Homo sapiens: one gene and its partner. The protein of the gene in region 1 interacts with the protein of each later gene in a pairwise test. Each region holds a gene or a part of one and is shown on either strand. Other genes may lie near its edges.

Region 1 (7,717 bases):
TTTCACGTTGGGGTAGGGGAAGTGGCACACACATGCTCTTGCTGTGTACACACAGTGAAGGACCTCTCCCGCAGGCAAGCACATGCCCACAGCTTGAGCACACTGTCCATGCATCTCCTGTCCCCAACAGGCAGTCGTGGCCTTTGGGGCCTGGCAAGTTCCGAGCTGGCTACGCCCCATGCTTCTCCAGGGTGCTGGCGACCTGGCAAGGACTAGGGCAGTCCCCCACTGCACCCCCAGCTCCTGAGGCCAAACCCAGGGCTTCCCACTGCCTGGCAGAGGAGCCCTCTGTGACCGCCAACTCTCCTTCTGTGGTCCGGGCAGGATGGTCTTGCAGCCCTCACTAGGCTGTCACAGAGCCTGGGGCTGGGCTGCCAGAGGACACCACTCTGGGGCAGGAGCTGCTGCTACCTCCAGGAGTTCTGCGTCATGGGGGCCACTGCGGGAGGACACAGGCTGAGGTGGCTGCAGCCACAGGAGGGCCCGGTGCCCCAGGGGGAGGTGGGGCACAGACATACCCTCGGGGCCTAGGCTGGGCACCAGCATGGGACTCAGAGGGAGCGCCCAGGAGGGACTCCTCTCTGGCTGGAGGCAGAGGGCCCTGTGGGTTGGGAAGTCAGCTTGGAGTGGGGCTGGGCCAGGTCCTCACCTCCCAGCCTCCCCCCAGAACCACTCCGACCTGAGTGCCAGGAGGGCCCCTGTCAGGCCGTGGGGGCGGTGGCAGCGCAGCCCCGGTCTGCTGGATGAACTGCTGCAGGTTGCACTGACGGAGCTCTCGGTTCAGCTCCTCCAGCTCCTGAGCCTGAGCCTGGGGACACATGAGATCCTTAGGAGGCACAGCCACTGGGCTCCACAGCCCTTGTGCTCCGGAGGGAGCACTTTCCCTGGTCGGGCCCTGTGACCCCCATATCTGCCCACGTCAGGGGTTGGGGAGTGACAGGGGATCAGGTCCCCGGGCTCACCTGCCTCCCGAGTGGGACCCTGTGACCCCCGTATCTGCCCACGTCAGGGGTGGGGGAGTGACAGGGGATCAGGTCCGCGGGCTCACCTGCCTCCCGAGTCAGACCCTGTGACCCCCATATCTGCCCACGTCAGGGGTGGGGGAGTGACAGGGGATCAGGTCCCCGGGCTCACCTGCCTCCCGAGTGGGACCCTGTGATCCCCGTATCTGCCCATATCAGGGGTGGGGGAGTGACAGGGGATCAGGTCCCCGGGCTCACCTGCAAGGCTCGCTCTGCTGCCTCCAGGGCCCGGCTCACCAGAGCCAGGCTGCCCTGCACCTCCGCACTCTGCCGCTCCTGAACAGCCAGGTCCTGGTGCAGGCGCTCAGTGGCAGATGCCATAGGTGAGGGGGGCCCAGGGGCCTCCGCTGCCAGCTGCAGCTCAGCCTCCAGGGCACGGGCCTGAGCGTCCAGGGCCTGCAGCCGGGCGGCATGCTCAGCAGTGGCCGCACTTAGTGCCTGCAGGCGTGCCTGTCCCTCTCGCTCCCGGGCCTGCTCCCGGCGCAGCTCTTGCTCCCAGAAGGCCTCATGGCCCAGCTCCTCAGCATTCCTCTGCACCCTGAGCTCCAGGCCCCGCAGGTCTGTGCAGCAGCCTGGTGTGGGTGTCACAGGGGCCGCAGGCCCAGGGCGTGAGAGGCTGGGGGCTGGCTCGGGGGTCAGTGTTTTGCGGGGCTCACAGCCCAGCGCAGCCCGTGGCTTTACAGGGAGGCTGGCACGAATTAGGCAGCGTTCCGGGGGTGGACAGCTGTCTGAGGAGGGCCTCCCAGCTAGGCTGGGCCCTGTGCGCCTCAGGACAAACTGGACATCGCTGGCAAACTGTCCGCAGGTGGCCTGGGCGCCCACTGGACACTCTTGTGGCAGCAACTGCCGCTCCTTCTCCCGAAGCCGCTGCACAAGCACAAAGCGGCCAGTCTGGCCTGGGAAGAAGAGGAGAAGGTCAGCCTATGTCCCCCCGACTCTCTGTCCACCTGGCTTGAAGAGTTGGGAAGAACAAAAAGGATCAGCAACCAGCCCCACTCTCCTTGGGGGAGACCATGGAGCTGGACCACCAGGTCCCACTTCAGCTCTACCTGCCCGGCCTGCCTGACCCCGAGAGGACTCACCTATTGCTTGGGCTAGTGCGATGACCACTTCCTGGCAGGTGGTCTGCTCTGAGACCCCACAGACCACACGCTGGATGCCATCCACCCACACCTTCAGCTCCATGGCCGCCAGTCCCAACAACATGCCTGTCCTGTGGGGAGGGCGCAGGCACCGGGTCAGGACCTGCCTACTCCTATCGCAGGCTGGTCCTCCTCTCCTCATCCTCTTGGCCTGCCCTAGAAACGGCTGGGCTGCCGCCCCTCCGCACGGGCCCCACCCTCCTGTGCCAGCCCCACCCGCCAGCCACACATTCCTGGGGTGGCGGCCCTCCGGAGCACGCATCCTCCCCCACTTCACCAGCTTCCTCTTGCCACGCTCGCACTCCCGGAACAAGGCGAATCATTAACCAGATCCAGCATTTCCTACTCGCCTCACCTGGCTCGGAGGACACTGCCCCCTCCCCGGGCGGCGCGGAGGCGCCCGCACGCCAGGCCCCGCGGCCGCCGGCATGGGAACGCCCCACCCCGACCTGCTCAGGCCGCAGAGGCGCTCGGGGTCGCAACCCAGACCTCGACCCTGCAGATGGAGCAGACTCCGGGTCTGAGCAGCCCCCGCCAGCCCGGGGAGCCCCGCCGCTGCCGCCTAATCGCTGCGCTCGCCCCGAAAGTCCCGGTCCCCGCCGCGGGCACCGAAGCCCGCGCCGCGACCCCAGCCTGGCGGGAGCCAGGGCGTCCCCGTTCCGCAGGGCGGGCGCAGGTGCGGCGCCGCCCCCGCTCTCCGTCCGGGCATCGCGGAAAACTCTCCCCAGTTGGAGTCGGCGTCCGGCCGGCTCGAGGCGCGCCCCGCGCTCCCAAGTACCGGGGACCCGGCGCGGCTCACCTGGGCGCTCGCCAGCCTGGAGACCCGCTCCGGCGCCGCCGCAACCTGCCGCCCCCAGCGCCGCGGCGCACCCGGGCCCCGCGCCCCCATTGGCCCGCGGTCCGCACGCCCCGCCCCTAGCACCCCTATTGGCTGCTCAGCGCGGGCGTTCCGCCCCCTCCCCGCGCCCATTGGCTGCCTCTGTCACGCCCCTCCCCGACCCATTGGCTCGTCGCCGCGCCCCGCCCCCCCCGAGACTACAGGTGTGGGCGGGTCGGAGGGGGGCGCCGAGCCGCAGTCCCCGCCCCCACCTCCCGCCTACCGCGAAAAACGCGGAAATGCGGTGGCTGCGGCCCGCGGGCAGGCGTCGGGGTAGGTGTCTGGCCCCGCTCCTGGGCCGACTTCCTCAGCAGCCTTCTAGTGTGGCGGGTTCCCGCCCAGGAAGGGTCTCTGGCTTGAGATCCCGCAACCCCCGCCTGCGTCCAGGGGCAGCGGGGCCAGCCCCTCCCCTCGCTTCCCGGGCCAGCCTTTGGGGCCTACCGCAGCTGCAGTAGTCTGGACGCGCAGGGGTCGCGGGGTCGCAGGGTCACCAGTCCCGGCGAGGGAGGTGGAGCCCTGCGGAGCTGGCGGGCGCAGAGTCCTGGTGCGGGAGGTGCCCGCTCAGAAGGCCCGGACTCTAGCTGAGGCTCTTCTCCGACACCTTCCTGCCCCTTTTGGACCCAGTGCCAGGCCATGCACACAGTGAAGCTGGCTGGAAGCCGCTCCTTCACCCCCTACCCTACTGTCCCGCCCAGGGCCCCGCAGCCTCGCGGTCAGCTGTGTGGGCCATTGATTGTTCTGCCCAGCTCAGAAAGAGTTGTGGGCGTGGGCCTCCTGCCCGCCTGTCTCCTGTGCTCCCCCAGGGAGCCCTTACATAGCCGAAAGTTGCAGAGATGAAGGGTGAAAGCTGGAATGATTGGGTTTTAATGGGTCAGGTCTGGGACCTGGCTTTTCTCCTGGAGCAGAGGGAATACTTGTCATGGTAATGGGGTAGCCCAGAGGGTGTGGACACGGCTGGGAAAAGTGAGGCTTCAGTTTGGGGGTCAGGTAGGTGAGTGCCTGTCACTGAGGTCAAAGGAGCTGTGGGCTGGGCCTGGCGGTGGAGGCGGGTGCCTGTAGTTTCAGCAAGTCAGGAGGCGGAAGTGGGAGGATCACCTGAGCCCAGGAATTCGAGGTTAACGTGCGCTGTCATCACACCGAAGCATTCCAGCCTGGACAGCGGAGCAAGACCCTGTCTCTAAAGAATTAATTATTAATTTAAAAACAGGCTGTGGGCAGGAGTGTACTATTGCCAGTTAGCGTTCAGCACAGTCCCCAGCTTGTCACTGTTACCTGTCTGCTTCCCCCACACACCCATGGCTATGCTGGGCTGGCTCACAGGCAGCAGTGCCCCCCTATTTATCCCGCTGCTGCTGCCAGGCTAGGTAGGGGATGCTGGGGCCTCCCTCAGGGTGTTGGTCACTAAGTGGTCCCCCCGCTAAGCTGAGCAGTGGCTCAGCCTCTCACACCTCCTCCAGGCTGGGCTGGCCCAGAACTCACCTAGGGGCCTGGTCTGGGGTCTCCCTGGAGGCTCCTGGTAACAAACAGCCCCACCCCTTCTGGGTGCTGGTATCCATGGCAACGGTATACAGCCCTTCCCTCCCAGGCCTGCTTGGAGGTCGGGCCTCAGGTGAGTGCTGGGGGTAGGGCCCTGAGCTGGGGGGACAAGAGAGAGAAAGAGGGACACCACATCACAGGCAAAGGGCCAGCACCTGGGTGGCAGGGGTACACGCCAGGGACATGTCGGGTGGTGACCTGCTGCGCCAGCCTGGTCAGAAACACACGGGTGTGGACACCCACATGTGGGTCCCTTCAGAGAGCAACGCTCTGTGAGTAAGTGGTGACGCCTGGGCTGCTCCAACCTGTGTGGCCACACGAGGCGCACACGGCAGACGGGCCCCCCACCCCTCCCAGCTCCCGAAGAACATTGAGAATGGCCCCCAAGTCTGGCCAGGAGGTTGAAGAAACCGAGGAAGAGGCTCTCCTGTCCCCCACAGAGCAAGAGTCGGTCAGTGGTCACCTGGGACCTCCAGCAGGCGCACCTGCAGCCCCCGAGACTCCCACGTGCCTGCCAGACACCACGCCCCACCCCGCACCGGTGGTCTGCTCTGCCGACCCGCAGTAAGGAGGAGAGGGAGGACTGGTGAGCCTCCTGGGCCAGGTGGCCAGGGGCCGGCCTGAGTAAGCAGCAGGGTCTGCTGCCGCTGCAGGTTGGCTCTTGAGTCCCTGGACCCTCGCACACTGCGGCTGCTGTGGAGACAGCGAGAACTGGAGATCCAGGCCTTGCGGTGGGCCATCCAGAATGGCGAGGACGCCCGGCTCTGCCACATCCTGGAAGAGGTGGCGGGGCTTCCGCCCAAGAGGTCTGCAGCACAGTCCCCAGCCCAACCCAACCCCGCCCTGTCCTCGCCCGGACTCCTGGTTTCTGTCTGACCCCAACCCCAACCGCTGAGGCAGATCCTTACCCTCATCCTTGCCCGCGCTGACCCTCCACCCTGATCCTAAGTTAACACGCTATAGCCTCCACCCTAACCCTGCGCATGTGGATGGGTGCTAGACCCTTGTCCAGACCAGCCGGAGGCTGGCCAGCCCCAGCGGGGCTGTACTGTGTGCCCTTGGGGCCAAGGTGGCAGTGGAGCCCCTCCTTCTCCCCTCCTTCGCCACTGACCTGACATTAGGAACCCCTGCCTGAGCAGGGTGGGGGCTGCTGAGGTCACCCCTCCTCCAGGAGCTCCCACAGTCAGGAGAAACTCCTGCAGAACCAGGTCCAGAAGCTGATCCAGGAGTTGAAGGAACAGAAGGAGCGAGCCCAGTGGGTGAGGCAGGGGCACAGGGAGTGGGCAGGGTCCTGGTGTTGGGGAGCCAGGCTGGGGCTGGCCTGGGGGCCTTCTGCAGAAGACACCCCCCCACCACCAACCACAGGCCCTCTCGGAGCAGGAGAAGGAGCACCTGGAGGAGCGGCTGCTGCAGACCACCCGCACGCTCCAGGAGATGGAGGCCGAGCTGCAGAACTTGCAGAAGTCCTGCCTCCTGCAGCTGGCCCGCTCCTCGTGGGTGGGCCGCATGCTACGATCCCAGACTGGCAGTGTGGAGGTGAGCCTGTCCCCCAAGCCCTCCTGCCCCAGGCTGCCCTCCCCAGCCCTCCCCATCTCGTCGGGTGCCTCTGCTGGGGCGCCCTGGCCTGCCTGGAAGCCTGCCCTGCTCAGGTGCCTCTGGAACTCTGGGCTCCAGCAGGGAGGAATCAGGAGGCCTCAAAGCACAGGTGAGGTCAAAGAGGAGAGGTGCTGTAGGGGAGCACCCAGCCCCTGCCCACTGGCTTCCGGTCCCCTCTTGCAGGTAGTGACGGCAGAGACTCTGATGGACCCAAGCGACCTCTCTGAAAACATTCAGGCCCCCACCGGGGAGGTGAGCTAGGCCTCCCACGTGTGTGGTCTGGTATCTGGAGCCCTGCGGGAGGGGAGGACCATGTGCCTCTTGCTTCCTGGCCAGGGCTTTCGGCTGGAGGACGTGGATTGGAACAGCGTTGCCCGCCGGTATCCCAACCTCTTCACCAACATGGAGCCCAGCTCAAAGCAAAAGTAACTGCACAGAGCAGGGACTCCCCAGGGGCCAGAAGGGAGGGCTCACCTTGGCAAGTGAAGACGCAGGACACTAAAGGACCATTTAGTGTCCCTGGATAAGTCTCTTAAACCTTCCAATGCGCGTTCTCTGATCTGTAGAATGCGTTGGGGTTGAGGCAGCCATCACTGTCCTGCCATGAACTGAGCCTGGGTACTGGGAGGCAAGAGGGGCTCCCTGCTGCACTGCCTTGTGAGGCTGGACGGGGGCAGGGCTGGGGTCTGGAGCTGGAGTGGCCATCAAGCAGAGCGTGGTCCACAGGCAGCCCCGGCCCTGGCCACAGCTGGACACAGGGAGCCCAGAGTCCTCTGGAAAGCATTCCGAGCGGCATCACAAGACCGTGGAGTGGGGCTCCCTGCCCTGTCTGAACACCAGCAGCTCAGGGGGCGCTGACTCCGACTCCAGCAGCTGCCGGCCGGGCCTGCCTTCCTTCGTGCAGGTGATAGGGCACCCGCCCCGGGACCACCGCGCTTCCTCCGAGCAAGCGCTGGTGCAGGCCGGCAGCTACAGCAGGGACTCAGAAGGTGCAGTGGGGCGGGTCTCCCCTGGTTACCCTTCACCCACCCTCCACCCCCTCAGAGCTGTGATCTCACTCAGAGCCCTGGAGGTGGCCCTCCAGCCCCCAAGGTCCAGCCACCTTTCCTGCCCCATCTGACCCTGGCCCTGCTCCCTGCCCCGCCAGGCGTTGCAGGCCTGTTCTGACCTCACGGGGAACATCCGGTGGGGACTCCATTCGAGGGTCCCCTCCCCAAAAGCGCTGCTCTCTCTAGATCTCCAGAAAACCCACTCACCCAGGCACGGCGAGCCGGTCCTGTCGCCCCAGCCCTGCACAGACCCGGACCACTGGAGCCCGGAACTCCTGCAGAGGTAAGGGGCGAGTGACCCAAGCCTCCGGCGCCGGACTGGAGCTGGTTTCCGGGCGGGGCGCGCAGCTGTGCGGGTGGACCGGCCGCATCTCCTCACAGCGTCTCCTCTCTTCCCAGCCCGACAGGCCTGAAGATCGTGGCTGTGAGCTGCCGGGAGAAGTTCGTCCGCATCTTCAACCCGTCGCAGGAGAGCACGGCCGACCTGAGCGGCAT
Region 2 (7,027 bases), on another chromosome or scaffold:
GCAAAAAAAAAAAAAAGAAATGTTAAATAATGCACATTTGCCACAAGAAATCTTCCTTGAACTTTTAGTTTCTTCTTTTTTAAAATTATCTTTCTTGGCTTGAATGAACTTCAGTTTCTAAACGCACACGGAAAAGCCCTGTCATCCCGGTTTATCTCTTTCAGGGAAACTTCACTTTCTAGACTTAGCACATTTCCTCCAGCACCAACCAACTGAAACCATTCTGCAAACTGTGTCGATTTTTTCTTCAGTCTTTTAAGTTAATATATACTGCACAAATAAAAACTCTCTTTAATTCCTTAAAATTGTGTCTTGGGTGCAGTGTCCTGTGCCCCTTCTCCAGGGTGTGATGAGGCCGGTTTTCCCAGCCCTTGCCTTTCAATTTACACTCACTTCCTCCACTTGCCTTTCCAGAATGAACTGTGCTGATGATGTTAGTCTCTCCTGCTCCCCGCTCTTCCTCCATCTGGGCTCTCCTCAGCTGCATCAACCACAACCATGGTGGGTTCCAGAGCTTCCATGGTGTATCGTTTTCTTGAAGGCAGCACAGTAAGCCTTTGGTTTCTAGCACCAATTTCAATGTACCTGGCTATTGTGGGGGCCTATGGAGGAGGCCCCAGGAGCCCTAAATTCCTTTCCAGATAAGGGATGTTTCTGGGCCTATCACTTGATAGAAGTGGAATGATTCGATCAACACTGTCTTGCACACCTTGTCCATGTGGCTGCTGCTCCTTCTGCTTGGGCTGGAGGCTGTATTAGTCCCTCACTGATGCTGTGACAAATGACCACAAACTTGTCTTACGGTTCTGGAGGTCAGAAGTCCAACATGGGTCTCACTGGGCTGAGTCGGGGTGTCCTCAGGGTTGCACTCCTTCTGGAGCTCTTGGGAAGAATCTAATTCCTCGCCTTTTGCAGTTTCTACAGTTCACCCGTGTACCTTGGCAGGTGGGCCCCTTTCTCTATCTTCAAGGCCAGCAGCATCTTCAGATCTCTGACTCTGCTGCTCTCTCTCCTGCTTCTCTTTCCACTTAAAAGGGACCTTTGTGATGACACTGGACCCAACTGGACAACCCAGGATAATCTCCCCATCTTGCTGATTAGCAATTGTAACTCCATCTGCAACTGTAATTCCACCTTTGCCATATAACCTAACACACTCACGGGGTCTGGGGATTAGGACGTGGACAGCTTTGAGGGGCCAGTATTCTATTTACCAAGGGGTTTTTCTGCAGTTGGCTTTTTACTGCTGGAACAATTGAGAATGACACAGGCAGGAACCAATGATGGGCACGCTCATTTTCTTTTTTGAGACAGAGTTTCACTCTTGTTGCCCAGGCTATAGTGCAGTGGCGTGATCTCAGCTCACTGCAACCTCCGCCTCCCAGATACAAGTGATTCTCCTGTCCAAGCCTCCCAAGTAGCTTGGATTAGAGGCATGTGCCACCACATTTGGCTAATTTTTTTGTATTTAGTAGAGACAGGGTTTCACCACGTTATTAGTAAGGCTGGTCACAAACTCCTGACCTCAGGTGATTCACCCAGCTTGGCCTCCCAAAGTGCTGGGATTACAGGCGTGTGTTACTGCACCAGGCTGGCCGGGCAGGCTCATTTTCAATGGAATGCAGGCCCTCACTTCCTTGTTCTCCTCTCCATGGAGGGAGGGAGGGAGAGAAGGAGGAGCCCCACCATAATGCACACCCCCAGCTCCGCAAGAGCATGCGGGGTCCCTAAGGCCCTTTGGCTAGCATGGGTGATGCCAGCAGCTGGGGCCCCTGCCCACCTCCCCAGAGAGGTTGCCACTGCCCCCCAAGGACCAACGCCAAACCTAGAGGTCTCCCCCCAGAATTCAAATGTGGCTGTGCACACAGGTATCCACTTACCTGTATCATCCAGCTTTCTAAGGTTTGGGTGGCTGGCCTGGTACTTTGCTTCCTGTTCTTTACTTGTACTTATAGCTTCTTTCAATCTTTGGATAAAAGTTCACAAAAAAGAAAACGTTTAAAAAGGAAAAACCCCTATGACAATGTTATCAGTCTTTTCACATAATGCCTGTGTGCTAAAAATCAAATGCCTCCTCTGTGCCAAACTCCTTCTGACCAAAGTAGGGATTTCAACAGCTTCTCCCAGGAGCACAGTGGGCCAAGCAGTAAGCTTATGAAGACCCCTGCCTCAGAAGTGTGGCAGCTAAGCCAGGTGTGGTGACTCATGCCTGTAATCCCAGCATTTTGGGAAACTGAGGTGGGAGAATTGCCTGAGCCCACGAGTGTGAGATCTGGGAAACATAATGAGACCTTGTCTTTACTGAAAAAAAAGAAAAAAAAAGCAGTGTAGCATCGAGTTAGGTGGCCCTCTCTCAGGGAAACCTGGATTCCTAGGACCAGGCAGATGAAAAGCACATGGAACAACCAAACCGGTACTTTAGACTACAGTCAGCAAACAATGACCTGCTGATCACATCTGGCTCACCTCCTGTTTTTGTACTGTTTCCCCGTTCTTTTTTTTTTTTTTTGAGATGGAGTCTTGCTTTGTCACCCAGGCTGGAGTGCAGTGGCGTGATCTTGGCTCACTGCAACCTCTGCCTCTCGGGTTCAAGTGATTCTCCCGCCTTAGTCTCCCGAGTAGCTGGGATATTACAGTTATAGGCAGGTGCCACCATCCCCAGCTAATTTCTGTATTTTCAGTAGAGATGGGGTTTCACCATGTTGGCCAGGCTGGTCTCTAACTCCTGATCTCAAGTGATCCACCCACCTCGGCCTCCCAAAGTGTTGGGATTACAGACATGAGCCACTGCGCCTGGCCCCAAGTTATTTTTATTATGGTAAAATACACAAAACAAAATTTCACCTGTTTTTATATGACCATGAGCAAAGAATGGCCTTAGAGATGACCATGTGCACCTCAGATGACAAACTTAGAACCTCAAGAGTTTCATTCCTCTCATTAGTGCACTTATATTACCAGAATACTGTACTCAACTATTACTGTTTTTGTTGTTGTTGTTTGAGATAGGGTCTCTCTCTGTCACCAAGTTTGGAGTATAGTGGTGCAAACACTGAAGTCTCTAACTCCTAGGCTCGTGATCCTCCCACCTCAGCCTCCTGGGTAACTGAGACCACAGGCACTCACCACCCTGCCTGGCTTTTTTTTTTTTTTTTTTTTTTTTAAATTTTTTCAGACAGAGTCTCGCTCTGTCACCTAGGCTGGAGTGCAGTGGCGCAATCTTGGCTCACTGCAGCCTCTGCCTCCCGGGTTCAAGTGATTCTCCTGCCTCAGGCTCCTGAGTAGCTGGGATTACAGGCCCCCACCACACCTGGCTATTTTTTGTATTTTTAGTAGAGACAGAGTTTCACCATGTTGGGCAGGCTGGTCACGAACTCCTGACCTCAGGTGATCCGCCCGCCTTAGCCTCCCAAAGTTCTGGGATTACAGGCATAAGCCACCATGCTTGGCCAATTCTTAAATTGTTTTTTCTTTTTGAGACAGAGTCTTGCTCTGTTGCCCAGGCTGGAGTGCAGTGGCGTGATCTCGATTTACTGCAACCTCCATCTCCCGGGTTCAAGCTATTCTTCTGCCTCAGCCTCCTGAGTAGCTGGGATTACAGGTGCCTACTCAAGTGATCCCCCTGCCTCAGCCTCCAAAAGTGCCAGGATTACAGCCATGCAGGCATGAGCCACTGTGTCCAGCCTATTACTTTTTTTTTTTTTTTTTGAGATGGAGTCTCACTCTGTTGCCCAGGCTGGAGTGCAGTGGCACGATCTCGGCTCACTGCAACCTCTGCTGACCAGGTTTACACCATTCTCCTGTCTCAGCCTCCTGAGTAGCTGGGACTACAGGCGCCCACTACCACGCCCGGCTAATTTTTTGTATTTTTAGTGGAGACGGGGTTTCACCGTGTTAGCCGGAATGGTCTCGATCTCCTGACCTCGTGATCCGCCCACCTTGGCCTCCCAAAGTGCTGGGATTACAGGCGTGAGCCACTGCACCCGGCCACTGTTTTTATATTTTAAATTTTGTCACTAAAAAGTTGTGAAAGTATGTTTTTTTCTCATCACGTAAGTCCCTATAAAATATCTTTGATTTTGCTCCGTGGCCTAGTTTGCTGACTCTGGCTGTAGACAGGGATAGCTCTTGCAACTCAAAGTCATTTAGACTATGCCTGATGCCCTGCTGATCCCCGACATCCTGCTGAGCCCCCTAAGGTATGGCAGGTGCCTCCAGCTGGGAGCTGTGCCTCCCCAACAGCCTGCTCTCCTCTATCTCAACAGCAGCCTGACCACTTCGCCAGCCAATCTGGGAATCAGGGTTACTCGCAATTTTTGCCCTCCCCCTGCACAGCGCTACTCCCAGTAATCCAGGCAAAACAAACGCCCTCTTGATCTCCCACCCCCTAAGTAGCCCAGAAACCCAGCCTCTCCTTCTGCCTTGCCTTTTTTTTTTGAGACATAGTCTCGCTCTGTCACCCAGGCTGGAGTGCAGTGGCGTGATCTCCACGCACTGCAAGCTCCGCCTCCTGGGTTCACGCCATTCTCCTGCCTCAGCCTCCCAAGTAGCTGGGACTACAGGCGCCCGCCACCACGCCCGGCTAATTTTTTGTATTTTTAGTACAGGGTTTTTGTATTTTATTTTGTATTTTGTATTTTAGAGACAGGGTTTCACTGTGTTAGCCAGGATGGTCTCGATCTCCTGACCTCATGATCTGCCCGCCTCGGCCTCCCAAAGTGCTGGGATTACAGGCTTGAGCCACCGTGCCCGGCCTGCCTTGCTTTTCTTTACCTTTAACAAGGATTATGGCAATGCCTCTCAATTCAATTCCCTCCCTTCCAATCCTTACTCCCCATGGGTGCTGCGCATCTTTCTAAAGCAATACTGGCAAGCACCTCTTCAGTTAAAGTCTTTAATGACTCCCAACTTGCAAGAGCAAGTCCAGACTCCCGCAAGCTAAGGGTTTTGCAGGCCCAGGGCTCCAGCTATGGGTAGAATGCAGCAGAGCCTGGTGAATGGAAGGATTTAACACTCCAGGATTTCACCCCACGGAAGCTGTGACTGAAAGTCTAGAACACAGAACTGGCTCCTCTAAGCACCACTGTGGGCAGTGCATTGCCATGCTGGGAGTAGGAAGAGACACTTGGCTTCTGAGTCTGCCTGGCCACCTTTCAGCCTGCACATCTCAACGCTGGCTTTATTCTTTCTATGTGCCATCACATATATACTGGTAATACATAAATGAGGAAAACAATGGTTTCTTTGTGAAAAATGGCTCCCCCACAAAGAAAGCCAATTTTTTTCTTTTTCTTTTTTTGAGACGGAGTCTAGCTCTGTCTCCCAGGCTGGAGTGCAGGGGCATGACCTCGGCTCACTGCAACCTCCACCTCCCTGGTTCAAGAGATTCTCCTGCTTCAGCCTCCTGAGTAGCTGGGATTATAGGTGAGCGCCACTACGCCCGGCTAATTTTTTTTTTTAGAGGGAGTTCTGCTCTTGTTGCCCAGGCTGGGGTACAATGGTGCGATCTTGGCTTACTGCAACCTCTGCCTCCCTGGTTCAAGCGATTCTCCTGCCTCAGCCTCCCAAGTAGCTGAGATTACAGGTGTGTGCCACCTTGCTTGGCTCATTTTGTATTTTTAGTAGAGACAGGGTTTCTCCATGTTGGTGAGGCTGGTCTCGAACTCCTGACCTCAGGTGATCCACCCTCCTTGGCCTCCCAAAGTGCTGGGATTACAGGCGTGAGCCACCGTGCCAGGCCTGATTTTTGTATTTTTAGTAGAGACAGGGTTTCATCATGTTGGCTAGGCTGGTCTTGAACACCTGACTTTGTGATCCGCCCACCTCAACCTCCAAAGTGCTGGGATTATAGGCGTGAGCCACCACGCTCAGCCAAGAAAGCCAATTTCTAGGGAGACTGAGAAAAGTGATAAGACAGTAGAGGTTTAAGAGAGGGTGGTTCCTGGTCAGAAACCAAGTCTTAAATAAGTTAGAGAATTTCAAATTAAGGGTGCATATGTGACAGGAACGCATGAGCTGTAAGTGGAAATGAGAACAAGCAGCTTGGAAAGCTGTCAGCAAGGACAAACAGGGCTTCCCAAGAGACAAAACTTCAGAGAAGGCCGAAGGGTTTGTGTGATAATGATGTACACAGGAAATGCATGACTGAACAGAAGTTTGATAGGAGAAACTTATTTTAAAAGCTTTTGAGGCCGAGGCGGGCAGATCACTAGGTCAGGAGATCGAGACCATCCTGGCTAACATGGTGAAACCCCATCTCTACTAAAAATACAAAAAAAATTTAGCCGGGCGTGGTGGCGGGTGCCTGTAGTCCCAGCTGCTTGGGAAGCTGAGGCAGGAGAATGGCGTGAACGTGGGAGACGGAGCTTGCAGTGAGCCGAGATCACGCCACTGCACTCCAGCCTGGGTGACAGAGCGAGATTCCATCTCAAAAAAAAAAAAAAAAAGCTTTTAAGTGGGCCAGGCACAGTGGCTCATGCCTGCAATCCTAGCACTTTGGGAGGCTGAGGCGGGAAGATCAGTTGAGCCCAGGTGGTTGAGATCAGCCTGGGAGACAAAGTGAGACCTTGTTTCTACAAAAAATACGAAAATTAGCAGTGCATGGTGGCCCATGCATGTAGTCCCAGCTACTTGGGAGGCAGAGGTGGGAGGGTTGCTGGATCCTGGGAGGTGGAGGATACAGTGAGCAGAGACTGCACCACTGCACTCCAGCCTGGGCGACAGAGCGAGACATTGTCTTAAAAAAAAAAAAAAAAAAAAGGCAAAGTTTTTAAGTGACAGTATTCCTGCATTTATGGATTAAAGGTTTTGACAGGATCACAAAAATTTTACTCACAATTTATTGCATTTTTTTTTTTTGAGATGGAGTCTCTGTCGCCCAGGCTGGACTGCAGTGGCTTGATCTTGGCTCACTGCAACCTCCACCTCCCGGGTTCATGCCATTCTCCTGCCTCAGCCTCCCAAGCAGCTGGGACTACAGGTGCCCACCATCACCCCTGGCTAATTTTTTGTATTTTTAGTAGAGACG

What was found. The genes of interacting proteins can lie anywhere in the genome.
Region 2: the proteins of RASSF7 (region 1) and SNAP29 interact in binary tests that used the Homo sapiens proteins (3 or more experiments, as listed by UniProt).

Annotation. Positions count from the first base shown.
Region 1 is NC_000011.10:556,280-563,996, reverse strand, and holds the start of RASSF7 (ras association domain-containing protein 7), read right to left. Parts: upstream 3,028-7,717; 5' UTR 2,520-3,027; intron 2,236-2,519; 5' UTR 2,229-2,235; coding exon 2,105-2,228; intron 1,919-2,104; coding exon 1,221-1,918; intron 809-1,220; coding exon 680-808; coding exon of another isoform or gene 617-679; exon of another isoform or gene 602-616; coding exon 519-601; exon of another isoform or gene 440-518; coding exon 352-439; 3' UTR 1-351. Other genes in the region: LMNTD2 (lamin tail domain-containing protein 2), read left to right, coding at 4,413-4,650, 5,018-5,141, 5,231-5,383, 5,749-5,836, 5,943-6,113, 6,357-6,425, 6,510-6,598, 6,900-7,162 and 2 more. UniProt on the Homo sapiens protein: Negatively regulates stress-induced JNK activation and apoptosis by promoting MAP2K7 phosphorylation and inhibiting its ability to activate JNK.
Region 2 is NC_000022.11:20,875,988-20,883,014, reverse strand, and holds part of SNAP29 (synaptosomal-associated protein 29), read right to left. Parts: intron 1,967-7,027; coding exon 1,881-1,966; intron 1-1,880. UniProt on the Homo sapiens protein: SNAREs, soluble N-ethylmaleimide-sensitive factor-attachment protein receptors, are essential proteins for fusion of cellular membranes.